Regions from separate parts of the Homo sapiens genome. Here regions 2, 3 and 4 are each linked to region 1. Evidence: fine-mapped expression QTL. A gene starts in region 1. Each other region holds a variant in brackets. All regions are shown on one strand. Distances are from middle to middle.

Region 1 (7,775 bases):
GAACCATCACGCCTGGTTAATTTTTGTATTTATAGTAGAGACGGGGTTTCACCATGTTGGCCAGGCTGGTCTCAAACTCTTGGCCTCAAGTGATCCACCTGCCTCGGCCTCCCAAAATGCTGGATTATAGTGAGCTACCACACCCAGCCTGTCAGATCTGATGACCTGGAAATTAAAAAAAAAATTATATGCACACACATACATAGATAGAGAGATAATCTTCTTTTGCTAAATGGGAGCTTTCAAAGTTTGGAATTAAGTAAGCACTAAGAAACTGAGTTAGGTCCAACAATTATTTGCCTTTATTTCTCTTGCTTCTAATTCAGGATCAGTTCCCAACTTCAATCTGTGTTCTGTTTGTCAAGTACTCCAACATGCCATGCACAAAGATGGATAGTTTAGATGAGAGATGTTGCCACTGCGGTCATTTATTTTTACTTGAATTCACTATTTTAAGTAAAAATATATACTAAAAATAACCAACCTTTATTGATAATACCAGAGCGCTTCCTTTTAAGGTAAATGTTCTTGTTGCCCACATCTATCCTTTTCCTACATCCGTATGGAGTTGGACATATTTCTAAAATTCTTACACCTCAAGTTATTAAAGTTCAAATGTTAAAAATTCAAATTGCAATTTGAATGATATTACATGTAATTTAATTCGTTATTTGAAACATGAATCAAGATAACTTTTGCTCAGAATATATCAGCATCATTTTGGGTATTTGGGTACTTGTTGAAATTCATTAAAAGTAACCTGGATATTACTAAATGAGATCCAGAAGAAACTTTAAGAAATAAAGGTGTGTTTCATAAAATGTGTGTCAAGGGTAGGGGTTTGGGGGAGGGATTGCATTAGGAGAAATACCTAACGTAAATGATGGGTTGATGGGTGCAGCAAACCAACATGGCACATGTATTCCTATGTAATAAACCTGCACGTTGTGCACAGGTACCCCAGAACTTAAATAACAAACAAACAAACAAAAGTTAGAGCAAGGGTATTCTGGCCTCTTGAAGGAAAACAAAAATGTGTGTCAAAAAAAGTCTGGCTACGCTACGACTATTAAAGTACTGGGAACATAAAATTCAGAATGAAAAAGGTAATAAAAGTGGAGAAAATTAGGATCTCAAAAGGAAATATACAGCTAAAGTACTTATTCTTGGTCAGAAAGGGATTCATTGTATTTTTTAATCAAATATGCAGTTCGGTGATGAGTGTATCAGCAGCTTCACCTTCTAGCACAAAGATGAACAAATTAGCCACAGCTCTCGGGCAAGTAAATGTACCTAGAAATTCTAACCGCTACTGATAGGAAATGTGATTAAGAAAAATTTTAAACATAGAATTTCCCCTGACATAGTCAAGCTGAATGTCAGCTACAAGCGTATTACAGTATATATCTTAACTACTGGGTCTGGGGTCTTAGCTTCCCCAGCTCACCAACAGATGGTACTTGAAAGTGACTGTTGGTTGGGTCCTCTGAGAAATTCAATAAGGAAAAATGTAATCTGAGTCTGCAACCTATTTAGAGGAAAGATAACTAATACAACTGGATTAGTGGGTGAATTAATATATGTTAACAACTTGAAACAGTACTTTGTACAAACTAAACTGTCAATAAACATTAATTGTTAATTAATCGTCATAATAACAGCAGATAAATTCTATGAGGCGGAAGCCACATATGTACAAGGTGAGCACTGGTAAAGAAGAGATGAGTATGGCCAGTAATGAAGGAAGGCTTCACATGAAGGAAAACTTGAGTTGATTTCTAGAAGTAGATGAAGAGAGAGGAGAGAGGGGAAAGGAATAGCAGTAAGGAAAAGTGAAGACAGAAGGGGATTCATTTGCTCCTATGTTTGGCATACCAGTTCCTTATTCCTTCTGCATATCACTTCTTTTTTTGAATTTTATAAGAAATATATTTTTAAATTATTTTAAAATTAATATTATTTTTAATTGACAAATCATAATTGTTTACATTTATGGGGTACAGGGTAATGTTTTGGTATATGTATACAATGTGGCATGATTAAATCAAGCAACATACCTATGGTCTTGCTTACCTATCATTTTTTATGGTGAGACATTTGAAATTTACTCTTAGTTATATTGAAATATACAACATATTATTATTCACTAATCTCCTTGCTGTGCAATAGAACTCAAAACTTATTCCTCCTAACTGAAACTTCGTACCCTCTGATCAACTCCCTATTCCCTCCTTCCCCACCCTTTCTACCTTCCAGCGCCTGGAAACCACCATTCTACTCTCTATTTCTATGAATCCAACTTCTAAATTTATTTTTAAATTAAATTAAATTTTAGTTTTGAGACAGGGTCTCACTCTGTGTCCAGGCTGGAATGTAGTGGCATGAACATGGCTCACTGTAGCCTCAACTGCCTGGGCTCAAGAGATTCTCCCACCTCAGCCTCCCGAGCAGCTGGGACCACAGGTGTGCGCCATCATGCTTAACTTATTTTTTTTTGTCTGTAGAGACAGGGTCTCACTTTGTTGCCCAGGCTGGTTTTAAATTCCTGGGCTCAAGTGATCCTCCAGCCTCGGCCTCCCAAAGTGTTGGGATTATGGGCATGAGCCACAGTCCCTGCCTGGCCTGAGTCAACTTTTTCAGATGTCACACTTAAGTGAGAACATGCAGTGTTTGTTTTTCTATTCCTGGCTTATTTTGTCTAACATACGTCCTCTAGGTTCATCCATGTCACAAATGATCTTTCTTTTTAAAGGCTGAATAATATTGTGTATATATACCACATTTTCTTATCCCTTTATCCATTGATAGACACTTAGATTGATTTCGTATCTTGTGTATATAGCACATTTTCTTATCCATTCATCTGTTGATGGACACTTAGGTTGATTTCATATCTTGGCTATTGTGAGTAATGTGCAATGAACATGGGAGTGCTGCATATCACTCCTTTAAGTATAGGGCTGCTAGTATGATTGTTTGGCTATAAAAGATGTGCATGCTGACTAGTATTAGGAAGTGAGGTTGCAATGGTCTGTGTGGGTCCAGATCATGAAGGATCTTAAAATCTTGGCAGAGAAGCCTATTTTTAAGAGTAGGCCATGGAAGGCCATCATAGATTCTGGAACAGAGGAACCAGTGTACAGCATAGTGGTTCTAAGTTCATGCTGTAAAGTTAGGAGACCTGGGCTTGAATCCTGGCTGCTCTTTTATTAACTTTGTGACTCTGCCTAGCTGCTTAGCTTCTCAGAGCTTCAGTGCTTTTATCTGCAACATGGAAATAATAGCACCTGCCTCATTCTTTGTGAGAATGCATTTAAAGTATTGAGCACACTCCCTGTCACATAGTAAGCATTCTCAGTAAGTGCCAGCTACTATTATTTAGGAGGCTAAGGCTCTAGGTGATGAGGTCTACATGGGTGCAGTTACAGACGCAGGGAAATTGTGAGGAGCAAGTCATTCTAATCCTCTTAGAAGAAATGTCCATGGGGACACCCAGACTTCAACAAGACTTTGAGCCTAGTGATAATTAATGTAAGTTATGAAGTTCAAAACAGAAGTTAGACCGGGTTTCTAAGCACAAAAATTTGGCAACTTAAAATGATTTCAAAGTGGAATTATCACATCAGTATAACCTTATGATAATACATATCCCTCCTTCCTAAATTACTCATATCCTGATACCAGAACAAGAGTTTTAGAGCTCAGAAGGGTTAGTGTCTAAAATCATAGACTGAATTAGAAGTGACTTCAGTAGGCTTAGAAAATACCACTTTGTAGGAAAAAAACAACCTCTCCTCCCAAACCAATTTTACCAAAGACTGCAAAATAGATAAATATTTTAAAAGTAGAGAAGACTCAATTATAGGCTAAACTCTTTATCATACCTTGTCTGTGTGTTTAATGTGGCAATGGTCACCAAAGTCCCTTGAAGTACAGTAATATTCATTTGTGCCTCCCCCATCCCCACTCTGCTCTTGAAGTTCCAGAAGGGCAGATCCAAAATAACATTTATCCTTGTATTGCCCATCGTTATTGAACAAGTAGATACTCAATTATTTGCTGAACTAAAATGAATTTGTGAAAATGGTCATTCTAAACGAAGGGCTGTGTTGGGACTTTGAGCTTCAATGTGGTTAGGCTTATTTTCTACAAAATTATTTTCCCAACATCCAGTGAGTTTTGAATTAAGAGAATTTGTTTAAATCCTACAGTAGACTTTTCAATCAATCTAAACCATCTCCTTAACTGAATATCTAGACAGAGAGAGAGAGTGAGAGACAGAGAGAGCGCGCCACAAGATTGTCCATATAGGAGCTCCAGAAATCCGCATCCACCCAAAATGCGTCCCGGGGCAGAGAAGTTTAGGCTGCGCTCCTCCCACCTCCTTGGATGGGTCCCAGCTGAGAATACTCACTGGGCTGAGCCAAGTTTGCTCTCCCTCTTCCCGAGCACTTTCGCAGGCTTTGTGTCTTCCACATCTTGCTGTAGTTCAGTCATCGGGGCCGTGTCTGGAGGGCACCTTCAGACTTCCGCGCGCCTGGCTCTGCCCCGGCTCGTCCCGGCTTCTAGGTCCGGGTGCGCAGGCCAAGCAAGCGGCGCCGTGCCCTCCCCTGCACCCTCCGCCCAGCGCATCCAGGCCGGGCCGCGCCAAGCTCCCGGGGCCGCGGACCTGGACACGTCGGAGCGGGCGCGATTGGTCCGACCCACTGTGGAAAAGCCGAGAGGGAGGGAAGGGGAGGGTCGAAGCGAAGTGACAGCCTCTTTCCCCAACCCAGGAGGCAGAGAAGAGAAAAAGGAAACCTGTTGAACGAGTCTTTCGGGAGAGGAAGCTAATTGGCCAAGCAGGTGGAACATTTGCCTAAGAAGGCACAATCTGTTTAGCCTCCTGGTAAATTAAGCTTTTTGTTTTCTATCCCGACTGTAACAGGGGGATTTTTAGAGGGCAGCCGGCTCTAGATACCGGAAATGGAGACGTCTGAGTGGGACGCCCTGTCACACAAATGCGCTGTGTGGGCTGGCCTATGCCCCATCCTAAATTATTCAAACAGGATATTGCTTCATTGAGGGACTGCCTCTTCTGCTTAAACAATAGGTCTGCTCAATTTTTTATGTGGGAATAACAAAGGTAATAAGTAGTTGCCTTTGGTGGTGTTTTGGTTAACCCTTCATCGTTCTGGGGTGGGGGGGGTGGTTAGAGGGGCAAAGAAGAAGCAACCATCAAAATCTTCAAATATTGGGTTATGACTGTTCTCATCAAAATCAAAATTGGTGTTTGATAATTCCCAAGCCGTCTCTTTGTTGCCCATAGTTGTGCAAGTACCTTATTTACTATGCACTCAACCAGTACCGTGAATGCCTCTTCTTCCCACCTTTTGGTGACATTTTGACTTGCCTGTTCTAAGGTTTTGTATTGGAAGCATTCACTCATTCATTCATTGAACAAACTTTTGAGAGCTACAAAGTTCCAGGCATTGTTCTCAATCAGGGGTGTCCAATCTTTTGGCTTCCCTGGGTCACATTGGAAGAAGACGAACTGTCTTGGGCCACACATAAAATATACTAACACTAAGGATAGATGATGAGCTTTAAAAAAGGTCTGTGCAGGGGCCAGGCACGGTGGCTTACGCCTGTAATCCCAGCAGTTTGGGAGGCCGAGGCGGGTGGATCATTTGAGGTCAGGAGTTCGAGACTAGCATGGCCAACCTAGTGAAACCCCATCTCTACTAAAAATACAAAAATTAGCTGGGTGAGGTGGCGCAGGCGCTTGTAATCCCAGCTATTTGGGAGGCTGAGGCAGGAGAATCACTTGAGCCTGGGAGATGGAGGTTGTGGTGGGCCAAGATGCACCACTGCACTCCAGTCTGGGCAACAGAGTGAGACCCTGTCTCAAAAAAAAAAAAAAAATCCGTGCATAAATGTCACCATGTTATAAGACAGTTTATGAATTTGTATTGGGCTATATTCACAGCTGTTCTGGGCTGCAGGTTGGGCAAGCTTGTATAAACATTGACTTGTTATAGCAAATGACATTTGTATTGGTGGTTTTCTAATTTGCAATGGAGTAGTTGACAATTAGAATAATTAATATAAACGTTATTATTGGAAGCCTGACTTGACTTCAAAACAATTACAAGTGGCAACAGTAGAGCATGACATGCCTGGGAAAAAACGACTAACTATGTTCTGGGGCTGCAAGTCCTTCATTTTTCTCTTAAAATAAAGTTTAGATTTAAGAGTATTACAAAGACTATACAACCATAGTATGTACATGTATGTATGTAGTTTGTAGGGTGTATGTGTGTGTAAAACACCTAACCTTCTAAATAACTTCAAACATTTTGGAGGTGCAAGTTCTTTCCAAAGTTTTCTTATTCCTTCTCTTTTTACATATATATCATTAGGCTGAGAGAACAAAAGCATCTTTTTGTAGCCTGCTTGCTCCAAAATTGATGTTTGTGACATTTGAAAAATAAGTAAAAGAAAAAGCTTACATAAATTCCAGAAGAGTTGGCTTAGTCAGGCCTCTCTCTCTTTTTCTTTCCTGACCACTGACTGCTTTGCTATAGGAGCTGTGCTAGGTGGGATGGGGAAAACTCTGGGTGACCTGAAAGCTTGAAGGCTGTCTCCTTGGTGCCCATAGTTGCCTCTTCCTGGGGACATTCCTGATGCCTTCACCTCTAGATCCCCACCCTCCTCAGAATAGGGATAGGTTTGGAACAGAGATGAGGTTGTCAATTTCCCAAACTCTGGATGAGGACTCTCAGATCTCAGGTGCACTCCAACTTCTCATTACAGAGCTCAGATCAGACTGACTTTTCCCCGCTAAGTAATTTATTTATTGTGGTAAAATATACATAACATTACTATTTATCATTTTAATAAGTGTATAATTCAGTGGCATTCAACACTTTCACAATGTTATTTAACTATCACCACTTATCTGTACCCAAAACTTTTTTTTATCATCCTTGGCATAAACTCCCATTAAATACATTAAACAATAACTCTTTCTTTCTCACCTCCTCCCAGCCTCTGGTAGCCTCTAGTTTACTTTCTGTCTCTATAAATTTGTCTGTTTTAGGTACCTCACATTAGTGGAATCATACAATATTTTTCCTTTTGTGTCTGGCTTGTTTCACTCAGTGTAATGTTTTCAAGGTCAATCCATGTCATAGCATATATCCAAATTTCATTTTTTTTTGGCTGGATGATATTCCATTGCATGTATATACCACATTTGGGTTGCCCGTTTATCTGTTGATGGACCCTTGGGTTGTTTCTAGCTTTTGTCTATTGTGAATGATGCTGCTATGAACATGGGTGTGCAAATGTTTGTCTGAGTCCCTGATTTCATTTCTTTTGGATATATACCTAGGAGTAGACTTGCTGGGTCATATGGTAGTCTATGTTTACCCTTTTGAGAAATCATGGTCAGCCCTCTTTTAATGCATGAGTAAGGGCAAGTATTCAAAGCAGTCTTAGCATGGGCTTATGGCTCAAATAAAGAGCACTCAGTTACCCTAAAATAGCTTAAAGTTCTTTAGTGCATGGTATAAGGACTTCCAATGGTGTGGTTTTAAGTGAGAAGGAGCAGGTGAGGTTGAAGTGGAAGGCAGGGCTGGTAGGGAAAATATCAGTCTTTTCCTAGAGTGGAAGAATTAGAAAGGAGCAAGTAAGCTACAATATTTTACCTACTGATGTTTGCTTACGTTTAAAAGGCATTGTTAAACAACTGCCTAATTTGTTTATTCTTGGGGCTATTCTACAGTAATATA
Region 2 (7,775 bases), 63 kb before region 1:
AGGGGATCTGATATGTAAGTGCCAGCAAAGGCATGCCTGCTCCTGAGCCATACAACACCACACAAAGACAGGCTTTACACATGAAACCAAGGGCCAGGGAGCTGAAGTAGCAGGATGAGTTATGTGGGTAGTAAGCAGTGGAGCAGGGATAAGAACAAAGGCCTGACTCCAACATTTATGCTCTTTCTACTATACTGTTCCACCATTAATTCCACTTCCAGAACTAAGAAAATAAGTGTTTACTTCAGTTCCCGTAAGAGACATTGCTTTCTTCCCCAACTTTCTTGCTTTGTTTCTTCCTCATGTATCCCTCAGGACCAAAGATAAATGGAAAAACAGGAGTGGGAGGTAGAAAAAGGAATAAAACAAAGAACTGACATCCCAAATCCACAAAACACACCTACGATGACACACACACAAAACCCAAAATTAAAACAAAGGAGAGAATTAAGCAATTTACAGAGGAAAACCCAAATGGCCAGTAAATATATGAGATGTTCAGCCTCAGTAATAATTAGGAAAATACAAGCAAAAACCACAATGAGATCCAGCTTCACACTATCTGACTGGTAGTGGGAAGGCTGAATGGACTAGGATGGTACCTGTGGGAAGAAACTTTGAGGAGACATTTGAAGACAGACTTCACTGGATTTGCCAACTAGTCAACCAGTGGCAGGTGGAAAGAGGGAGTTAAAAATTATTCTTAGATTTCCAATGAGGATGACTGAAAGAGCAGTGATGCCATGAACAGAAATAGGGAAGTTATAAGCAGAGAAAGATCATGAGGCTTAGACATCACCGGCCCCCGAAGGTGAGAAGAAGGAATTGCTGGTATGGAGTATAAGACCTTCAACAGCATGGAGCTGCTATTTCACCGGCAGGCTGTGCTGCGCTAGTGCCCAGCTGCCTCTGAGGAAAGGTGCAGATGAATCAAAAAGAGCACGGGTGTGGCCTGGTACCTCTTTTTTAATACTTAGATTCTTTTGAGCAATGTGTGCAACTTCTAACTTTTTAGAACATCAACACGCGCATTTTGACCCCAAATCCACTTTTTACTGAATCAGTTTCTGCTTTGAGACAAAGGTAGTCTCCACTGGTGCTCCTGTAAACCTCCCCGGCCTCCCTGCTAAGCTGTCTGAACCCTGCACAAGACCTGAGGCTGTTTGCCTGCTGTGAACAAGCTCTTCTGTTTTCAGTTCCCTGGTTACAGAATGTGGTGTCCCGGCCAGGCCCAGCGGGAGAGTGGGAAGAAACACAAAAGAAGGCGGCAGGATCCCATGTGTTTCTAATCCAAAGAATATCACTGGTATGTAAGAGTGAACAAAATTGAAAATTAATACCACTTCATTCTCTGGGTTGCATGAAAGCCAAACATTTGTAAGCATTTCATTAAAAAAAATCGTTTATCTTCAATTCTCAGAAACTAATGTTTTAGAAAGGAAGAAAGCTAACTCATACCTTCTCTAGGTTGATTCTCGATGTAAAGAACTTTCTACATTTGCCCATAAATAGAATGATTTAATATGAATTCTCTGACCTGACTTGGTTTAGAACATAAGTTTGGAAACTCCTTTGCTCTTAATACTTTAGCTGTTAAATACTAACTAACACTGAGTGTAGGAAAACAAAGATAATTTTATTCATTTGTATTTAATATGAAATTTTACTAATTTGTATTTAATATGAAGAAATATGTCTTCCCAAGTAAGCATAACTGTACTATGATGTAAAGCTACCAGATACTGGGCGTTTGTGACAGCAGTTGTAATTGAACACTGAATTCTCTCTAAGCCTTTCCTGAAGGATTAGGGTAAAAACAAAGTAGTTATCAGATAAAGGAGAAGAAAATAAGACATGTAAATCAGGTTTATTTCTGGGATATTTCTGGCATGCCTATCTTCTTCTCCAGCTCACCCTCCTGCTGCCTTCTAAGAATGCCACAGGCTAAGGACAGTTTTGCCCTAGCGTTGTTTGGACTGTAGATACTTTGAGGTAAAGGTACATCTGTGGCCTTATCAACAAAGCCTAAAGCTGAATTCTGAGGAACAGTAAAGCAGAGAGCTTCTAAGCACAACTTTGCAGTCAGACAGGCCTGGTTCAGGTTCCAGATCTGCTGACTTTATTTATGTATTTTTCTTCTAATGCTCTCTCAGCAGACTCACGTCTGCTGCCTTTCTAGGTGTGTCACCTTCAGCAA[G/C]CTAATTTGAAACTCTTGATTCTTCCCCTATCAGATAGGGAACAATGACGTCTATCTTCCATGGTTCTAATAGGACTTACATGCAATATTTTACCTATGGGAACAGTCAGCCTTGGTGGAGTTGGGGCTGTACTTTCTGGCCAAGCCAGTGGTTGGTCTCCAGTTCACTCCCTACTATGTCCCTACATTAAGCTCCGATGTCAGTAGTCACTTACCACTGGGCCCTGTGCTATTAAGTAATATGTCTAATCAAGGAGGAAGAACAAAAGACCTACAAGACTATGTATTTCAAGGAAAATGAGATTAAGACCTATTTCTTTGTGGAAATAAAAAATATTCTTCCACATTTACTATAAAAAGCCCCTAGCCAGGGTTGATCATGTAGGTTTATTGCGGCACACTAACGGCGTCTGAGTGTGTAATCCCTGACCTGACCTAGGGCAACCAACAGGCACTACTGTGACTGCCCCCATACACAGGAAAGAAATAGGTCACCTTTTCTAATTTCACTATGTTAGCTGTAAGCTCTTGACAGAGAACCTCCACATTGAATTGTACTTGTGACCTCAGGCCAGATGGTGCTGCCTGTCTGTAAGAAAAAAGAGAAAAATTATTATGGGCAGGGATGACAAGGAAAGAAGTGGAATGAACACATTTAAAATTTATTTGAACAGAAAATTGGTTTATAATAGAAGAGAATGAACATTTCATTTGTTAATATTAGACAAAGCCCTGCAGTAATCCGCAACTCCAGGCTAGATGTTTAGGGAACTAATTCTTAAAAGCTCAGCGGGAAATCTCTTAAGCTATTTTTGTTTAAGTGGATATGGTGTGTTTCGGCTTCTAAACAAAAATCAGGCAATTATTTTCAAGCACGTGGTTTCTTAGAACCCTTTTATTAACCCCTAATATCCTTTCTGTCTCCACCAGAGCATAAACTTACAAGAATTATTGTACTTTTGAGCTATTTATACTAGAACTTTACAAGTTTAGGAATGTCCTTATCTAGTTAATCAAATGTCCCTTGAAACACGAGACTTTTGTAGTTTCTTCTTTGAGATTTATCATACAACTATAATTGCCCTTGTCTCATAATCAGGCGTGAGCCACTGTGCCTGGCCTGGAGTCACTTCTTATCTCTATGCCAATATTAACTTTTTGAACAAGATGGGAGAAACTAAGGGCAGAGTATGAATCCATACCAAACTGTTTATTAGGCTTTTGTATTTTATTAGTTCAAGTGTATATTTATGGGTCAAAAATAACCTGTATGCCTGCATACATGTAAGCCACCTAAAGGTAATTCCTATGGAGTAAAGAAAGGTCCTAGAATGGTATAACACAGTATTTCTCAAAGTATAGAGCTCAGACCATTGCCATCAGCACCACCTGGGAACTTGCTGGAAATGCAAATTCTCAGGCCTCATCCCAGACCTACTATATCAGGCACTCTGGAGATGAGCCCTGAAATCTGTTTAAACAATTCTAGATAATTCTGATGCAAATTAAAATTTGAGAGCCACTGGTAGACTGAGGAGCCCATGGTCTTTGTAGTTATATAGACCTGCAGCTGAATCTGCAAACTGTAAGACATTAAACTAATTATTACTCTGAGTCTCAGTTTCTTCATCTGTAAAATGGGAACAGTTCTATTCTAAGGTTATGGTGAAAATATAATGAGGAAAAATCATCTGTATTTGTATGTGTATGTATCCATTCTAATAGAGCCTTCAGCATGTGGTGAATACTCTGTCAGGAAATATCTCTACTTCAAAAACTTGGGCTAAATGTACACTTTCTAACATGGCATAAATTATTTCACTTTTTAGGCAATGTGTCAAAAGCTTCTTGTAAATAGGTTTAAAGAAAAGAGCTCTATGTCTGAAAAGGTTTAATTAGGCCAGGCATGTTAAAAAAAAGACTGATGGAAAATCTTCACAGACACATTCAATTAATTACTAGTCACATTGATCTTGACAGTGGTCAAGAGTTTTGCAAATAAGTGAGTTAATATAAAAAGTTATACATGATAAAATGTGCTGAGTTTCTTGAATTGCTTCTTTCTCTGAGTGTCTTGATTTATTGCCATTTTACTAAGGTAAACTTGTGTAGTTTAATAAATGGGGCAAGGTCACAACTGCATCTTAGCATATTCGAGCAAGATAATGTAAAATTAGGCTTGTTTCTTGCCTTATTACTAGCAACATTACCACAACTCCAAAATAGTACAGGGTTAGGTCATTCATTTCTAGACCCTCCTACCTTTTTACTTTCCACATATACACTTAACAAAATGTCACATACAGAATGTATCTCCAATTAATGTTTACTAAGAAGGATGCTAAGTTCAGGTCAATTATTATATTAAGCAGAATGGCAAGCAGATGACAGCTAGAGGCAATCGTCTTACTCAGTATTATGGGTGTCCACAATGGAGGTTAGTAACCCCAGCTGCTCCTCCAGAGTATTAATTCTGTATCTCATGTAGAAGGTCGAGATGATTAGTGCACAGACACTGGAAACGGATGAAAGAGAAACTTTCGTTAGGTTAACGGCCAGGATCTGATGTTCATAAAACAACTCAGTGCCAATGTGGTACACCCGAGGCAAGGTATTTTCCAAAATAACTTGGTAAAAAGATTTTAAAAACATCCTTTTTAAACAGGCTGATGCTTGTTATAAAACTTACAGCTAGAAGAGACTTAAAATCCTCTAGCCCAAGTCCCTTAATTTGCAAATAATGGCCCTTCTAATAGCACTGGTCAGAGCCAGACCCAAGTTGGAGTACCAAGCCAGTGTTCCTCCTCCCTGCGGTACTACCGTCCTCTGCCAGAAGAGCCTGGGCAGATCTTAGCCATGTTCTCTGGTGACTCCCTCCTTTATCTGGAAACCAGACTGGGCATATTTTCCTTGGTTGGGAGGAACAGCCTAGAACTGGGTCAGGCTATTTTCAGAAGAACAATTGGTTACACGCTAGAAGTTAAAAAAGTCTATGCCTACATTTTTGGTAAAGGGGATGAGGACAACATTTTCAAGTTGTGTTGGCCCCTGTTCAGGGGACATGGGACAGATGGCAAAACAAAATTATAGCTAGATAGAAGGAATAGGTTCTGGTGTTGAATATCACTGTAGAATGACTAAAGTTAACAATGATAGAGTTTCAAATAGCTAAAAGAAGGATATTGAATGTTCTCAACACAAAGAGATGATAAGGGTGATGGATATGCTAATTACCCGGATCTGATCAGTATACATTATATGTATCAAAACATCACTATGTAGTCCATAAATACCTACAATGATTATATGTCAATTAAAAAAATAAGGTAAAAAAAATAACAAGGGTAAAGATGCTTCATAATTCACAGAGCAATTTCCCAACTAATGGTACCCACTCAGAACTTAGTCCTCTGCAGGGTTTGGCACAACCATGAAAATGTGACCTAAGCCTAAGGAAAAAAACCTGAAGTAGGAGACAGAAATTGTCAAAGTAAAGATGTAGGTCACATTTCAGACAATTGAGATTTACAGTAGGTCTTGGCAGTGTGAAGAGATTATTCCTTTAGCGAATGGAATCATTTTCTTAGTCACTCACAGTAAATTCATGTACTTACACAATTGCATAGAATATAAGAATATGGTGAAGCATCGGACATTTCTGAGACTTGACTTTATGTAAGATTCCAACAGTTTCTGACAGACCTGTTGGGAGGAAAACAAAAAACAACTGTTTAAAACCATAACACACTTCTTTTATCCAGCAATATCCCTATGGGGTACTTGAGAGAGGTAATTGTTCCCAGGTAAAAGAAATCAGAGAAAATATCAAGTCTCCCAGTTGTCATTTTAACCAGTGGTTACAATTCCTTCCAACACATTCCATTGATTACATACCTATCCACAGCCTTCTTTGTGTCAAGCATTGTACTGGAATCAATGATGGACAATATAACAATATCCTTGCTCCCTTACCAGTATAGCTAGTTATTAGAATAATTAGTAAATAAGAAATTTGAGTTTTACTGGAAAATTTTTTATTTTTTTGAGATAGTCTCACTCTGTTGCCCAGGTGACAGTGGCGTGATCACAGCTCATTGCAGCCTTGACCTCCTGGGCTCAAGCAATCCTCCTGCCTCAGCCTCCCAAGTAGCTGGAACTACAAACATGTACCACACCCAGCTGATTTTTAACTTTTTTGTAGAGATAGGGTCTCACTATGTTGCCCAGGCTGGTCTTGAACTCCTTGGACTCAAGCAATCCTCCCACCGCAGACTCCCAAAGTGCTGGGGTTACAGTAACAGAAATTTTTGAAAGATAATCTCATGTATTCAGAATCATGAAGTGACCTCCATGAAGGCTATTCACTTTTGTATCCCCCACTGTAAGCACGGAACTGGGTACTGTTTGCTAAAAGAATAAGTGAATTAATATGCAAAGACCTATAATACAAAGGGAGGAAAGGGAATATGAAAAGCAGTCATAAGGTGAAACCCAGTTACAAATAGGCCGGGCATGGTGGCTCAAGCCTATAATCTCAGCATTTTGGGAGGCTGAGGCGGGTGGATCACTAGAGGTCAGGAGTTCGAGACTAGCCTGACCAAAATGGTGAAACCCTGTCTCTACTAAAAATACAAAAATTAGCTAGGCATTGTGGCATGCGTCTGTAATCCCAGCTACTCAGGAGGCTGAGGTACGAGAATCGCTTGAATCCAAGAGGCAGAGGTTGCAGTGAGCCAAGATCATGTTATTGCACTACAGCAGCCTGGGTGATAGAGCAAGATGCTGTCTAAAAAAAAAAAAAAAGTTACAAACAGACATCTCCAATCCTTCTAAACCCACCCCCCTGAGACATCCATTCCTTACCCTGTACAGGGAGACTCTTGGCTTTTCCTTCAGGTACTCTGTTCACATGGGCATCTGCCCGAGTTGGCTTTGCTTCTCCCTTGGAGACATTCAGAACTGTTTGGGATTCTGTCGCATGGAAATCTACTAAGCCAAAACAGAGCTGGGTAAGTGTTCTCTCCAATGTATTTAAAAACAGGATTAATCTCCAAGTAAATCAATCCCTTAACATGCATAATGGTCAAGAATGTGAATGGATGGTCTCACAAGTTAGTTGTGGTGGCTGGGGCTGAAATTGAATGCTTAAGCAAATAAGTAATAAAGTGATATAAGGATAGTCTTTCATTTTCCAACCAACTCACATGGATAATTCAGCTGTAACAATTAAAAATATTATTGAAATAAGAGGGAAGAAAATAGGCCGGTGCGGTGGCTCACGCCTGTAATCCCAGCACTTTGGGAGGCCAAAGTGGGTGGATCACGAGGTCAGGAGTTTGAGACCAGCCTGACCAACATGGTGAAACCCCGTCTCTACTAAAAATAACAAAAATTAGCCGGGCTTGATGGCGCATGCCTGTAATCCCAGCTACTCAGGAGGCTGAGACAGGAGAATTGCTTGAACCCGGGGGGTGGAGGTTGCAGGAGCCGAGATTGTGCCATTGCACTCCAGCCTCAAAAACAAAAACAAAAACAAAATTGTATGTTTTTTTCTCTCAACCACCCCAACGTTAGGTCT
Region 3 (7,775 bases), 28 kb before region 1:
AGAAAAATATTATAGCTGTCAGAAATATATTTCAGTACGAGAAACTAGAAATGTAAATTATATTTCTATTTGTTATATAAAACAGTAAAAATAAAACAGTCCTTTGGATTGGAGAAATCAAAACTTTCATTACTGCATCACAGCCATTGGTGCTACCTCTCTGTCCAAAGAAACACTGTAGTTATACAATGATTATTGTGGAAGGATTGAGATTTGTGCTGGATACATACAATTTGGAGTCAGAGATGCCATAAGGTCATGAGAAACACAAGGAAAGGCAGAAGCACAATATGCAGACAAGGAAAAGTCACTCTCACAAGGAAATCCAACAGTTTGTTTTTTTTTTCTGAAGTACAGGCAGCAGGAAGAAGCAGAAATTAAGTTGTGAAGTTTGACTCCTAATGAGGGAAGGCTACTTTTAGACTTCATTTGACTGGTGGTAGGTATTAATTGAAGATTTTTAAACAGAAGGAATAAAATGACAAGATATTAAATGCCCACCTTTTATACATCATGGACCTGATGAGCTATGGGCTTCTGGAGGACTATATTCCTATTTGTACAAGAACAAGGGAGGGTGGAAGCTGGAGACAAGAGAAAACAGAAAGGCAGGTAGGGAGTGAATCTGAAGGCAAGAAGCAGACACTGCGTTGGAGGGAAAATCCAGAGACAACATTGGAATGATTAGGGAGAGCACGCAATGGAGAGGAACATCCAAGAACACCAAGGTTATCTGGGGGATGGAGAGGATGGCATTGCCACTAACAGTTACAGGGAACACAAGAGAAATTGTAGTTTGGTGGGAAGGATTTTGTAAATTTAGTTTTAGACATAATAGATGTATATTGATAGCAGGTAGAAAACTGTATCTAAAAAAACCAAAGGAGCCCCAAATAGGTCAACAATAAAAAGAATATCAGATTTTGCAGAGGAGGGGTTCCGCCAGTTTGGAAACTAATTCCACTGAGTCTCAAGCACACTGCTGTAGCAAAAATGAATACCTAAACACCAGCAGCAATAGCAGGGCTAGAGAAATGGTTTAGCAGAGGCCACCATCTGGCTCCAGTAACCTCTTTAATATGGTCTCAAAGAAGACCCCTCTGTTCTCATGAAAGTGGACAAGTCATTGTCCCATGAACAATCATGTGATTCATTCCTGCCTCTATATCTACTCCTAATTCTGTTTTCCTAAAATATTATGTCTCTTTGAAAGCCTAAGGCAACTCATATAACTCCAAAAAGCAATTAATTGTTAAGATTCTGATTTTGGAGAGACAGAAACCCAACTCAAACTAGCTTGATTTTTTAAAAAAGCAACCAAACAGCTCCCAAGGGCTTTTGTCACTGCTTTAAGACAAAGTCAACAGTGGACAGTGGGTGCAGCTGCAGTGATTTCCCTTCCACCCTTGGAACGCACAGCAATGATCTCTAGGATCTTCCTCTCCAAGATTCTGGGACATCAATGTGCGATTCATCCTCCTGAGACACGGCCTCCATTATGTCATGCCACTGCTCCAGAGTTAACAATGCCTTTCTATTGAGCACCAGATCGAGGCATCTGGACACGAGCCAAGACCCTCCAGTTTTGCAATCTCCCTCTTCTTTTCAAAAGGAATTCTCTGTTCCAGCCATGTTGGTCGTCTTACCTTGGCCGCACTTATATCATGTTCTGTCCTTCCTCTATGTGTTGATTCTCAGTTCTCTGCTCCCTCCTCTCTACACACAGGAACCCATCATACCAGATTCTGAACAAATCCAATTACATTCCCACTTTTATACTGACTTCCATCTCTTTATTATCAATAATATAAGAAATTATGCAATTAATACTTATTGCCTAGACATCTATTTGCAATACAGGAAAACAATTAGCATTTTAAAAAGGGCTTGGGCTTAAATTTTATCTCAAAACCTACCTCATGAACTCCTTCCCAAGTGTGGCTGACAAGTTTTGGAAGAGGGGGTGGGAGCAAGAGAAAAAGGCCAGTCTTTTAATTTTCCCCACTGCTGAATTGGCATTGTGTGCAAACTTATTTTTTCAAACTGATTATTAGTTAGATGAGTAATAATTTGAAACCATATGGAAACTTGAAAAGACTGTTTTCATCAAACTAACTTCACAGCAGTAGCATTTTGAGGCCAAGCACAGTTGGAAAATAACAAAGTAAATTGTAAAATGCAGCAAGGAGGTAGCAATGGACTTTTCTAGTTTCCAGCCAAGGAAGATTGATGCTGCTGATAGTGAATTCTCCTTTGTTATTTACAGCCTCAGTGCATGAATGCTATTTTGCATTGCATAATAAACTTCCTAAAAACATATACTGAATATATCTCCTCCAAACTAGACTATAACCTTTTTAGGGGCAGGGACTTTAAGCATTTTTTTGAATTTCTGTCTTCATTCCTTTTTTTTTTTTTTTTTTTCTTTTAAGATGGAGAAGATGGAGTCTTGCTCTGTTGCCCAGGCTAGAGTGCAGTGGCGTGATCTTGGCTCATTGCAACCTCCACCTCCTGGGTTCAAACAATTCTCCTGCCTCAGCCTCCTAAGTAGCTGGGATTACAGGCATGTGCCATCATGCCCAGTTAATTTTTGTATTTTTAATAGAGACAGAATTTCACCATGTTGGCCAGGCTGGTCTTGAACTCCTGACCTCAGGTGATCTGCCCACCTTGGCCTCATATCTTCGTTCCTTTTTGGGGCTCTTCTCCACCAGCAATTGGATGTCACAATGAGCCACTTTTCATATACCTAAGATATATTAGAGGATATCTATTTGATTAAGGTTTTTTGTTCTGAAGACTGTGTTTAGGAAAGAACTAGTTTTTAACTAGAATGAAAAGCTTACCCAAACAAAAAGATAGAAATGCAAAAGAATAGGGCATAAAGTCCAGAAAAACATACTTAGAGAAACTGAAATTTTTCATTACTTAGTGAGGTCTATCATAAAGGAAACCAATTTGGAACCTCATGTTAAAGGAACAGAAGATCAAAGAGAGAACAAAACTGTGAGGATGAGAACTTCAGGCAAGAGTCATAAAAGGTTCTACTACTAGTATACAAAGGAGGAGAAAGGAAAGAACTGACTTATATATCAGGAATGCCAAGGAGAAGTGGTGTCTGTAGTATGAGAACTGCCAGGAGAGTAGAATGATAAGGAATAGAGTGGCTGAGGGGCTAGACTTACTGATGGACGGATAAGGGTGCTTCTGAATTTAGGGAATAAAAGGCCCTGCCATGGTTTCCTGAGATGTGACAGTTTATGAACCTGATACTCAGGAGAAAAGTATTGTCTATTTTTTGATAGATGGGTATTGCAAGAGAGTAATGTCAGGGAAACCAGGTGCTATGGTCTGAATGTTTGTGTCCACCAAACATTTACATGTTGAAATTCTAACCCCCGAGGTGAAGGCATTAGGATGTGGGGCTTTTGGGAGGTGATTAGATTATGAGGGTAGAGCCCTCATGAATGGGATTAATGCCCTTGTAGGGAGCTCATTAGTCCCTTCCACCACATGAGGATCCAACAAAATACAGCCATCCATGAAACAGCAAATGTGCCCTCACCAGACACTGAATTTGTTGATGACTTGATCTTGAACTTCCAGCCTCCAAAAC[C/T]ATGAGAAATAAATTTCTGTTGTTTACAAGAATGTCAGTCCATTTGCATTGCTATAGAGATATACCCAAGACTGGGTAATTTATAAAGAAAAGAGGTTTAATTGGTTCACAGTTCTGCAGGCTGTCTAGGAAGCATAGTGCCGGCATCTGCTTCTGGTCAGGGCCTCAGGGAGCTTACAATCGTGGTGGAAGGCGAAGGGGGAGCAGGCACATCCCATGGTGAGAGTGGGAGCAAGAGAGAGAGAAGGGGAAGTCCAAGACTCTTTCAAAAAACCAGATCTCATATTAACTAACTGAGTGAGAATTCACTTATCACCAAGGGGATGGTGCAAACCCATTTGTGAAGGATCCACTGCTGCGATCCAATCATCTTCTACCAGGTCCCGCCTCTGACACTGGGAATCACACTGGAACATGAGATTTGGAGGGGACAAATATCCAAACCATATCATTCTGCCGCTGGCCCCCCACATCTCGTCCTCACATTGCAAAATACAATCATACTTTCCCCAAAGTCCCCAAAAGTCTTAACTTGTTCCAGCATCAAGTCTAAAGTCCTAAGTCTCGTAAGAGACTCATCTCCTACCACTAATGAGCCTGTAAAATAAAAAAAGTTATTTACTTCCAAGATACAATGGTGGTACAGGCACTGGATAAACATTCCCATTCCAGAAAGGAGAAGTCGGCCAAAAGAAAGGGGAAGCAGGCCCCACACAGGTCTGAAACCCAGCAAGGCAGTCATTAAGTCTTAAAGCTCCAAAACAATCTCTTTTGAGATTGTTTACACCATGCTTCCTGTATAGCCTGCAGAACTGTGAACCAATTAAACCTCTTTTCTTTATAAATCACCCAGTGTCAGGTATTCTTTTATAGCAATGCAAATGGACTAACATACTTGTAAACAACAGAAATTTATTTCTCATGGTTTTGGAGGCTGGAAGTTCAAGATCAAGTTATGGAGCTCACTGGTGCAAGGAGTGGGCTCCCAAGGCCTCGGACAGTTCTGCCTCTGTGGCTTTGCAGGGTGCAGCCTCGCTGGCTGCTCTCACGGGTTGGAGTTGAATGCCTGTGGGTTTTCCAGATGTAGGGTGCAAGCTGCCAGAGGCTCTACCATTCTGGGGTCTGGAGGACAGTGGCCCCCTTCCTACAGTTCCACTAGGCAGTGCCCTGTTGGGCACTCTGTGTGGGGGCACAACCCCATATTTCCCCTCAGCACTGCCCTAGTAGAGTTTTTGTGTTGGCTACGCCGCGCGACAGGCTTCTGCCTGGGTATGTAGGCTTTCTGAAATATCCTCTGAAATCTAGGTGGAAGTTGTCAAGACTTCTTCACTCTTGCATTCTGTGTGTCTGCAGGATTAGCACCCCATGGAAGCCACCAAGGCTTACAGCTTGCACCCTATGGAGTGGCAGCCCGAGCTGTACCTGGGCCCCTTTGAGCTGACGCTAGAGCCAGACTGGCCGGGACAGAGTGAGCAACATTTTTTTTTTTTTTTTTTTTTTTTTTAACAGCAGGCTGGATGGACTGTCACTGGTTTTAGAGGTTATCTTCTAGGACAGAGAATGAATGAAGGCCAGGTGACGGGTGAGAAAGGAAATGGGAGGAGTCAGAAATGATAACCCAGAGTGAGGCATTGCTAGTAAACTTCACAGCAGAATGTTTCATTACGTTAATACAAATTCCCCTTGAATTACACTTCAAATCTCTTGTCTGACCTTACAAAAATTATGTTTATGCTGATATGCTAATAAATTTTATCCAGAGAGAGAGAGAGAATATATTATGCTAGAAATACATGTATTTGGTCAGAAGAGAATTTTTTACCTGTTAATAGTGCAATAACCTTTTAGGTTAAAACAGACAAAAACCAGGGCCATTAGAAGCCGACTTAGAAGAGAGAAATGTTCACTTTTGTTTTGAGGCACCCCTCTCCACCCCCGTGGAGACGAGCTGTACTACTCTGGCCCTCAGCTAAGCCCCTGAAAGAAGAGCTGCCTCTTACCACTCTGGCATCTACGATAACTACAGCTCTTTCTTTCCTCCTATACCCTTCATTTCCTGTAACTCTGTCTTCTGTTTCATGTAGGAGGAAAAAAAAAAAGAGATCAAAAGCCAGAGAGAGCTTAAAAGACCAAGTACATGGGCATTGTAGCAGAGTTAAAAGTTACTACGGGAGTCCAAAATAGTTCCAGAAACCTGTCGCTTTGTTTCTCCCTCACTCAAACTCTGCATTGCTACTTCCTCAGTCTCCTGTGTTCTGATCTTACAGTGCAGAGCCACACACATATGAGGACAGAGTAGGGTGTTCACAGGATGTGACACACAGGACTCTCCCAGAGGCCAGGTTTCGGTCTCATGCCATATCCCACCAAGTGAATCAACACGGGCATCAGCAGCACACGTGAAAATTCTCTTTGCTTAAATGCCAAGTATTATTACAGCTCAGGATTCTTTTTCTAAAAAAAATTAATGGGACTCAACTTCTAGAGAAGAAAGACACTGTCACTTTAAAAAAGTGGAATATATCTATATATTGGTGAAAGCAGTTTTATGTAAAAGGCTTTGATTTAACCAAAACACCCTCATATTAGACATACGTAAGGAAAAAGAAGCTCATGATATCCCATGGCGAAAAATAAGAGAGTATAGTTTTAGTATTTCAGATTGTGAGGTTTCAAAGGTGTTAATCTACCTAAGGATGTAAATGTCTCTTATCTGTATTTGGCTTTCCTTAGAAGTTATCCATGTGGTTTGTCATGTTAGTGTCAACAATATAGAATTATTCCATATTGTTATTATGTAAAAATATACATGATTTTAATTACAACTATCAAGATATGGAATAATTGTGGAACTAGTGATAGCTCCTCACTGCTGTTAAAATGTTTACCCCAATATTTTAAATATAACTAACTTTTACGGGATAGAAGAATTAGATTGAATATAATTTGTACATGACAGTACCACTTTCAAGGAAATAAGCAGTGGATCTAAAAGATTTTAATTTTATATTTGACATCTTTATTTACTGTCCTTAATTTCTCCCACCACAAATATGCATTTTCTCTATCTGGACTTGAAACGCATCGCTTTGGAAAACACATCTCTGCCTCTTCCCTCTTCCTTGCCACTCCTTTCTACTGGATTTCCCGGATGACTTTATATTTGCATGGTGCTTTGCCGTTCAAAAAGCATTCATACCCGTGACACCATGATACCACACTAACCCTCATGCAGGCATGAAAGACAGGTGTGTTAGACAGGTGTTTGAGGCCGGCATGTAAGACAGGTGTTATCCACATTTCACAAATAAGGAAACAAAGATGAGTTCGCTGAGGGCCCACACAACTCCAATCTTAGTGACTGAAGCCTCTATTACTCTCATACTATGACTAGCCTTCTCTTTCCAAGCCCGGTCAGACACCAAGACCTGTAGACTTTACCTCCTTAATATTTTCCAGTTAAGTCCCCTCTTTTTCTTTCCCTAATTTGGTTGGCTTAGCTAGGGTCCTTAATGCCTCCTGCCTGGACCACTATACCTCCCTACCTCATTTGAGTTATATGTGACCCCTCCTCCTTCCATCTATATGGAAGATCACTGTGCTCTGTGATCTTTGTAAAGCCCAAATATGATCATATCATTCCTTCTCCTCCTTTAAAACCCCTTTGGTTCTCTGTTGCCTACAGGATAAAGCTGAAGATGAGTACAGAAAACAGGTCCTCTGCAATGTGAAGCCTCCCTTTCTGGCTTTGAACCTCTTGTCATGCTGCCCCCAAGCACCCTCCTCCTGGGCTGCCATGCCTTCTCTGTGGTCCCTTGCAAGCACTGTTTATCTTTCAAGATTTAGCTCTTGATGGGGTCACCTCCTACCTGGCAACTTCCCCAACCCCCTCTAGGTCCTAAGGACTGACCTCTTCTTCTTTGTGCTCCTTTCCAGTACCCTGTGACTGTCATGGCAACTGTATCACTTTAGTATGTGGTTTATTTAAAAATTATAAATGGGGTCAGGTGCTGTGGCTCACACTTGTAATCCCAGCACTTTGGGAGGCTGAGGCGGGTGGGTTACTTGAGGTCAGGAGTTTGAGACCAGCCTGCTCAGTGAAACCCTCTCTCTACTAAAAAATACAAAAATTAGCTGGATGTGGTGGTGCATGCCTGTA
Region 4 (7,775 bases), 42 kb before region 1:
CCTGACCCTGTTCAAAGGTCTAACTCCTCTGTGTGCAGTTGGCTGGCCTACTACTATTCAGGCAGGTGCCTTATCAGACTCTTCAATTTCAGTACAAGGATGTCACAACTCCCCTTGTCCTGCCAATTATTGGATAAGCACATGACTTTGTGTTGGTCCCTGATCTCTGGGTATCTGTCAGAGTTCGAGGCCACAGCATGGAACTCACTACCATGCAATGTGCTGAAAAATGAGTTGTGGAATATAACGTTGCTGAAAAATGGACTGGAGGAACTGCTGCCTGTTTGTTCTTCTAAATTCTCTAAACTCTATACCTATATTAGTCTTGACCAGCAGGAAGGTGCATACTTGGGTTCCTTCTTGTCACTGGCTTCAGTAGCCCTGTCACCCTCTAAGACAATACAAATTCCATTCTCAAATTACCTGGCTGGAAGATGAAGACTTTTTTCTTTCAGTCTTAGGGTCATTTTTGCTTTCTGTTTTACAGTCGTTCTTATCACTTGCTAAAGAGGCACCATCAAAACTGGATTTTGACCTAAAGAAAGAAAGTCCAGGGTGTCTATAAGATAATTTTTTTTTGAGACAGTTTTGCTCTGTTGCCCAGGCTGAAGTGCAGCAGCATGATCACGGTTCACTGCAACCTCCCCGTCCAGGACTCAAGCGATCCTCCCACCTCAGCCTCCTGAGTAGCTGGGACTACAGGTGTGTGCCACCATGCCCAGCTCATTTTTTTGTAGAGATGGGGTTTCACCACGTTGCCCAGACTGGTCTTGAACTCCCGGACTTAAGCAATCTACCTGCCTCGGCTTTCCAAAGTGCTGGGATTACAGGCATGAGTCACCACACCTGGCCTATGAGATACATTTTTCATTAATTTATTGTAATAAATCTTGATTATTATACTATCTTCTAAGAAAACCTGACATTTGTTTTTCTTTTCTGGATATCAAAAATCATTCATGATACTCTGAGAATATTTACACAGCACATGCTTTAGGACACTGCAATGATTTCATCAGGCTGTAATCAAAAACTGTAGAAATAGTAACTTACAGAGGGTGAAATAACAATCAAGTTGTGAAAATAATTACATCATTTTAAAACGAAACTATTTTAATCAGTATTTAAAAAGGAGTACTTGAGGCAAATTACTAAATAATATTGCAGCTATAGTTCAATCAAAGAATATTTTTGTTTCAGAATTCCACTAATATATAACAAGTATTAATTGAGTAGGGCATTGTATTAAATGTCTTGGGGCCCATAACACAGTTTGTATCCTTAAGGCGCCTGTGTATGCATGCATCAAACACTTTTTTAAAAAGGCAGTACATGATTTAGCACCAAAAAAAATACATATTATAGGAGTTAGGAGAAGGTATGGAGCCAATAAGTCTAACAGGAGGTAAGAGAAGAGGAAAACAGGCCGGGCACAGTGGCTCATGCCTGTAATCACAGCACTTTGGGAGGTCAAGGTGGGCGGACCACCTGAGGTCAGGAGTTTGAGACCGGCCTGGCCAACATAGCGAAATCCCATCTCTATTAAAAATACAAAAATTAGCTGGGCATGATGGTGGGCGCCTGTAGTCCCAGCTACTCGGGAGGCTGAGGCAGAAGAATCGCTTGAACCCGGGAGGCAGAGGTTGCAGTGAGCTGATATTGCACCATTGCACTCCAGCCTGGGGGACAGAGCAATATTCTGTCTCAAAAAAATAAAGTTAAATTAAAAAAAGTAAATAAATAGAAGAGGAAAACAGTAGAATAATGTGGGCTTAAAATGCTGGGCCTAACAGGATAAGCAAGAATTGGGTATGAGGAAAAGAGACAAAACATCCCAGAGTGGGAATACAATAAAAGTGAAATCAGAATAAAAAAAATGAAACCACAAAACATGTTTGAAGCCAAGTCTTCCTTTTTCCTGTTAAGCACAGAGGTCAGAGCTCCAGAGTTTCCTTCTAAGATGATTCTAGTCCTGGTTTTCCATTTTAGTGGATGTGTACATTTGTACGTAACTTCAACCCTACGGCTAAACGCAGTCATTTCAAAGTAGAATGCATAGATGATTTTTGGAGTTATATATATGAATAAGTTTTATGATTATGAAGTTGCTTTAATGTTTATTGGGAGGAAACGACACACAAAATCCATGATTTCACAATATTATTCCTTAAAATGAGGTTCAGTTAAAAAAAATTGGTTCAAAGTGGATTTAAGAACAATCTGAAGTAATTCAGGTGGTACATGGGTGTCACAGAGAAACAGAAAGGACTGAAGTTAGAGAATTATGCTCTGGTTTTCTCAGCTGTGAAAAGATGGACTATATGATGTCCTAGGCCTCTTCTAGCCACTACAGTGTATGATTCCACAATGCTGAAATCACAGGGCAAATACCCCTCAGCAGTTCAAGGTAAATGAGTTTAATTTCAGATACAGGCCATTGAAGCTATTCACAGACATAAATTCCCTGGGAATTCTAGGGATTACATTTTTTTGGAAGCTATGAAAAAACATTTGTTCTCTATTTGAAAATAAAATTATCTGTACAAATGTCAACTTGCCTTTTATTTATATTATTCACAGATTTGAATTCATCACCTCTACTGATTCCCATTAATAAATGTTAATGGAATGGGCAAGGAAATGATCCGACCTTTTGAAGATCCATGGACTGCAAGCAAATATGACGAGTAGGGTGGCTCTACCCTTGATAATTTCAAAAGGCACAAGCAATAAGGGGGTTCATCTGCATGACACTGGCCCCTGTGGACAGGGTATGTATGTATACAATATGGATTTCTTTGGGTCTTTTCAACCCTGTTATTCTCACTTCCTACAGGTGACAAGAAGCCCAGTGCAAAATGAAAATGTGGGGTCCTTTATATAAAAATTATTAATTAATTAATAAAAACAAGTAAAAATTATTAATTAATAATTTTTATATAGAGACAAAGTCTCACTCTGTTGCTGAGGCTGGAGTGGCACAATCTCGGCTTACTGCAACCTCCACTTTCTGGGTTCAAGCGATTCTTCTGCCTCAGCCTCCTGAGTGCATGCACTACCACACCCGGCTAATTTTTTATTTTTAGTAGAGATGGGGTTTCACCATGTTAGCCAGGCTGGTCTCGAACTCCTGACCTCAAGTTATCCACCCACCTCAGTCTCTCAAAGTGCTAGGATTACAGGTGTGAGCCACCGTGCCTGGCCCCCTTACATAAAAATTATTAAGCATTTCTGGATAGCAAGAGGGGAACATTAAACCAAGTGTGGGCCCTTTCCAACTGCAGGAACCGCATGCCCATGAAGTTTAGCAAGCATGCCCTGTGAGAGTGTATTATTATTACGGAAGCCTGGGGAAGTTGGAGTAAAACCAACAGTGTTTTTAAGGTGCCTGCTGTAGTCAGCCAACAGTGGTAAAAGACATGAGAAATAATGTGCCTTGTGCCTTTGTGAAGAGAAGCATTAGGTGAGGCTTTGAGGGGAAACAACTAGAGGAAAAAAAATTGTTAAAGTGAGATGCTGGCCCTTTGGGAGGCCAAGGCCGGTGGATCACCTGAGGTCAGGAGTTCAAGACCAACCTGGTCAACATGGTGAAACCCTGTCTCTGCTAAAAGTACAAAAATTAGGTGGGCATGGTGGTGCATGCCTGTAGGCCCAGCTACCAGGGTGGCTGAGGGAGGAGAATCGCTTGAACCTGGGAGGCGGAGGTTGCTGTGAGCTGAGAATGTGCCACTGCACTCCAGCCTGGATGACAGAGCGAGACTCCGACTGGAAAAAAAAAAAAGGTGAGATGCCACAAAACAGCATGCAGGAAAGATGGAGAGATAATTGGGAATTAGAGTCAGAAGAGGAAAATTTCGGGAGGAGTTAAGACTTACT[C/T]TTGGTCCTGAATGAAGCATAGATTTGGAGAGAAGATATGGGCTGGGAAGCCAGGAAGGAAGCAAAAAGCGGAGTTAATAATCTTTTAGCAAAGACCAAAAGAAGTAGAAGGTAGCAGTTCTCAAAGTTCTAATAATGGTGAAGGACCACAATGATTTCTGTACTCAGTTTAGATAAACTGCACTCACCCATCACACACTGTTGGTTTAACCGCTATCTTTTAAGTGCCCCAAAGCAACTTTAGTCTCTACCAACTTTAGTCTCTACCAAATGGTAGTTGGTGCCTCTGAGAAAGATGAGGCTACAGCTACACATCTCAAAACCACCTCTCCCCTCCGGCCCCACAACCAAACCAACCCTCCCTCTTAGTCTGTCACAGGAAACTGGTGGCCTGGTGGGTCCCCGGGATGGGGATTCTTTTCCTCGGCTTTTTTTCACGGCCCCTAGGAAAGTGAGACACCAGGTGTGCACACCCAAGGCCGGGCAGACACTCCAACCTGGCCAGCCTTCCCAGCTTTCTAAACATATGCCAGAGAGGGGTCCACCCTGGCCTCATCACTTAGCAAAATCAGCGCTTTCAGAAAGGTGCAGATGCTCTGCTGAAGGCTGGGGCAGGAGGGAGAAAAAGATGCTACCTGGGTATCAGGGAAAAATGCTCATTCTTTCTCAGGAGTATTATTTGTCTATAGTATTAATACATCCTCACTCTTAACAAAAAACCCCTGCTCCTCCTGTAACGCCTTCTCCCCAAAAGACAAAAGAGAACAAAGAGAGTCAACGGAGGACTTACCATAGGCTAATGATTTTCTTCTGGTCTGGGGAGTCCGCCTCCACAGATGGGGTAGGGGATTGGGCTGTTGGCGACCTGCAGGCTTTCTTTTTCTCCTCCACACCATTCTCAGCCTCTGAGCTGAAGAAGAAAGGAAACCGCTTCACTTTAGACATTCAGAGAGAGGTAGCTGGAAGGAAAACGATGAAGTAACATGGTTTTCTAGAGAATGGAATGATTTTCATTCCTCACTGATAGGCTAGTTAACTTTGACAGCGAGGCCCTTTCCCAATCTCCATTCTAACCCCTTGCCTGGTGTCCCAACGGCAGTAGCTGCAGGTCGCACCTGTTTCACTTGTAAATGCCAGACTGTGTGGACTTGCTGGCTCCCAGGTCTGTGCTGCCCAGCTCTGCTCTGCATGGGCTGTGCTGGGGCAGCAGATCACCTGGAGGCTGGGAGCGCCCTGCACAAGCACACACGCACATGTACACACGCTCACGTGTGGCCTCCTGCAGGTGTGAGCCTTCCTGCTGGGAACCCCCACCCCTTTTGTTTGCATTTCTCTTATGTCACTTACATGTTGTTTAACCAAGCAGTTCCCTAAGCAATTTACAGTCTCTAATCTTTACAACCACCCAGACTAGGTAGGAATTACTACCCTCATTTTACAGATGAGGAATCTGAGGCTCTTGCTATCTTGCCTAAGTTCAGAGAGCTAGCATCTATCTTACTTGAGATTCAAACTTAGTATGTCTGTCTGCAAAACCTTTGTGTTCTCTCTCTCCATTCATCCCCCCAACCACCTACTCATCCATTTATCCTCATAATTAACTCTTCAGTGTGAGAGCTCCAGGGCAGAGTGGGAATCTTACTCATCTTTGTCTTAACCACGGGGTCTAGGATAGTGTTGACTTACAGTCATGATCAATAGGCGTTGGAAAAACTAGGTCTGACCTTGGTAAAAGAGAAGGTGGAAGGGAGTAGAGGGGAAGGTGAGTCAAGAAGGTTTGTGCATAGAACCAACAAACAGAGGACAACCAGCTTGGGGGATGCAGAGGTGAGTTCCCTCAGTCGGCCGGTGAAGATCTCTTGGGAAGCAGGGGAAACCACTTCCAATGGGAAAGTGGGAAAGGAAGGGATGTTGAAGGAAGAATACAAAATGTTATTTATGGATCAGAACTTCTTTGGTGTGTCAGCTCAGTAAAACACAAACGATACTTCTGAGGATGTGAGGACTCCATGGAGACTGAGCCTAAAGAAAGACATGTTAAGATGGCATTGCTATGAGAGATTAGCTAATCTTCACTTTCATTTACCACCTATTTGGTAGTCTCACCTGCATATGACTGTGCAGGCAGGAAATGCCACTGGATAGTTTAAGCTGTGTGGTTGCTTTGCTGATCACTTTTCACAGCATATGAAAATTGCAGCCTAGGCGAGGAGTCCTATTGTAGTGTCAGAATCAAGGCCAGTATATCTGACAAGGGTATCTAACTAATAACACCCACAGATGGTTGATGCTCTTTTTTTTTTTTTTGAGATGGAGTTTCACTCTGGTTGCCCAGGCTGGAGTGCAGTGGCACGATCTCGGCTCACTGCAACCACTGCCTCCTAGAGATTCTCCTTCCTCAAGATTCTCCTGCCTCAGCCTCCCAAGTAGCTGGGATTACAGGCGCACGCCACCATGCCTGGCTAATTTTTGTATTTTTAGTAGAGACGGGGTTTTGCCATGTTGGCCAGGCTGGTCTCGAACTCCTGACCTCAGGTGATCTGCCCACCTTGGCCTCCCAAAGTGCTGGGATTACAGGCGTGAGCCACTGCACCCGGCCAAATGGTTGACGCTCTTAATTTTGTGGTAAGCATTTCTCTTTTCCTAGTAGATACATATCTGAGGACAGAGGTCCAACCTTCTATTTCTTCAATTTTTCTCCAAGTACTTAAAACAGTTACATACATTAAAAGGGCTCAGTCCATAACAGAATTGCATTATGTGACAAAGGTACATGGAAGGCTGAGGCATTGAAATATTATTAGGAAAACCCTGTTTTGGTTTAAAATAATAATTGGACTTTATTAAACTTAGCACCAAGTTTAATTTGTGGACTCAAAGAATTTTAGAATAGTTAAGAGGCCTTAAAGCACATCTCTGCCTTTTTTCGCTTCCCCCAAGACACAAACACATTATCTCTTTTCTTCAACAGATTCAGGCAGAAATCTACTTGAGAAGCCCTCTTTAAGTAGAGACTGGGTATAGAACTTCAATAATCCATCTCAACATTTATTCAGATATTTACTGGATTTTATGCAGGATCAGATGAAGACTTAGAGGGAGAGCTGGAGCTGTCCTATACAGCATCTTTGTGTACAGAGAGCCACTCTGCAAAAGGTGCTCCTGGCAGAGATAAGGTGCTTCTTGCTCTTGGCAGAAACAGCCCAGCACCAAGGTCAGAAGGCAGCAAAACTGAGGCTAGATTTCAGCTCCTCTTTGACCCTGACCCATCTTGGTCAGGCATTTGTGTGCAGTGCAGGTGACTTAAGTGCTTAACCACATAAGGTGGTCCTGTTTCGGGACCCCTAGCTTAGCACTGAAAAGATTACAGTGCATGCCTCTATATTGTCCTACTAAAACAATGTCTTTCAAGGATGGAACATACAGTGTACTCAAAGTAGCTTTTTTCTACATACTCTCCACTTCACTTCTCCTTCAACTTGTGTCTTGTCTTCAGCACTGGTTCTCTCCTTGAAGGCCCTAGCCAGGGGACACATCCTCCACACTGCTTAAAAGTCTCTATGCTGCCTGCTGATTTTATAACTCACTAGGCATCTAATTAATTAATACCTTGTACTGGTACCTTTTCTCCCAAAAATCTTAGTTATCCAGCACTAAACCAAGTTCCTTAAAGGCAGGGAATGTCTGGTTTTTTTCCACAGCACTCAGCTCAGCATTTGCTCACAGTGGTCATTTATACGTTCAATGATATGGATTAATTATGTAGTATCTCAAAGAGGAAGTGAAATTCATCTACGAGTCAATTTGATCTTAGGTTTTTGCTTAAAGATGCTACAGGCTCAAGCAAGTTAATTCCTCACACAGGCAAGATTATTCCTGCAAGCGTCCCTTACCTTGGA

The links.
Region 2: its variant is fine-mapped to the expression of GRAMD2B in whole blood (TOPMed, PIP 0.97).
Region 3: its variant is fine-mapped to the expression of GRAMD2B in substantia nigra (GTEx, PIP above 0.99).
Region 4: its variant is fine-mapped to the expression of GRAMD2B in atrial appendage (GTEx, PIP above 0.99).

Annotation. Positions count from the first base shown.
Region 1 is chr5:126,420,329-126,428,103 of GRCh38, reverse strand. GRAMD2B (GRAM domain containing 2B) reads right to left here and starts at 4,695. Exons shown (of 14, transcript NM_023927.4): 1 at 4,415-4,695. The coding sequence starts at 4,497. RefSeq lists a silencer at 4,591-4,720.
Region 2 is chr5:126,483,810-126,491,584 of GRCh38, reverse strand. It overlaps GRAMD2B (GRAM domain containing 2B), which reads right to left. Exons shown (of 14, transcript NM_023927.4): 10 at 7,061-7,183; 11 at 5,812-5,899; 12 at 4,608-4,712; 13 at 2,693-2,786. Among named protein-coding and RNA genes, the nearest start is that of GRAMD2B, 64 kb to the right of the region's middle. The variant G/C (reference allele first, on the strand shown) is at 2,198.
Region 3 is chr5:126,447,998-126,455,772 of GRCh38, reverse strand. The region is part of intron 1 of GRAMD2B (GRAM domain containing 2B); the gene reads right to left. Among named protein-coding and RNA genes, the nearest start is that of GRAMD2B, 28 kb to the right of the region's middle. The variant C/T (reference allele first, on the strand shown) is at 3,617.
Region 4 is chr5:126,462,437-126,470,211 of GRCh38, reverse strand. GRAMD2B (GRAM domain containing 2B) reads right to left here. Exons shown (of 14, transcript NM_023927.4): 2 at 4,667-4,786; 3 at 424-535. Among named protein-coding and RNA genes, the nearest start is that of GRAMD2B, 43 kb to the right of the region's middle. The variant C/T (reference allele first, on the strand shown) is at 3,877.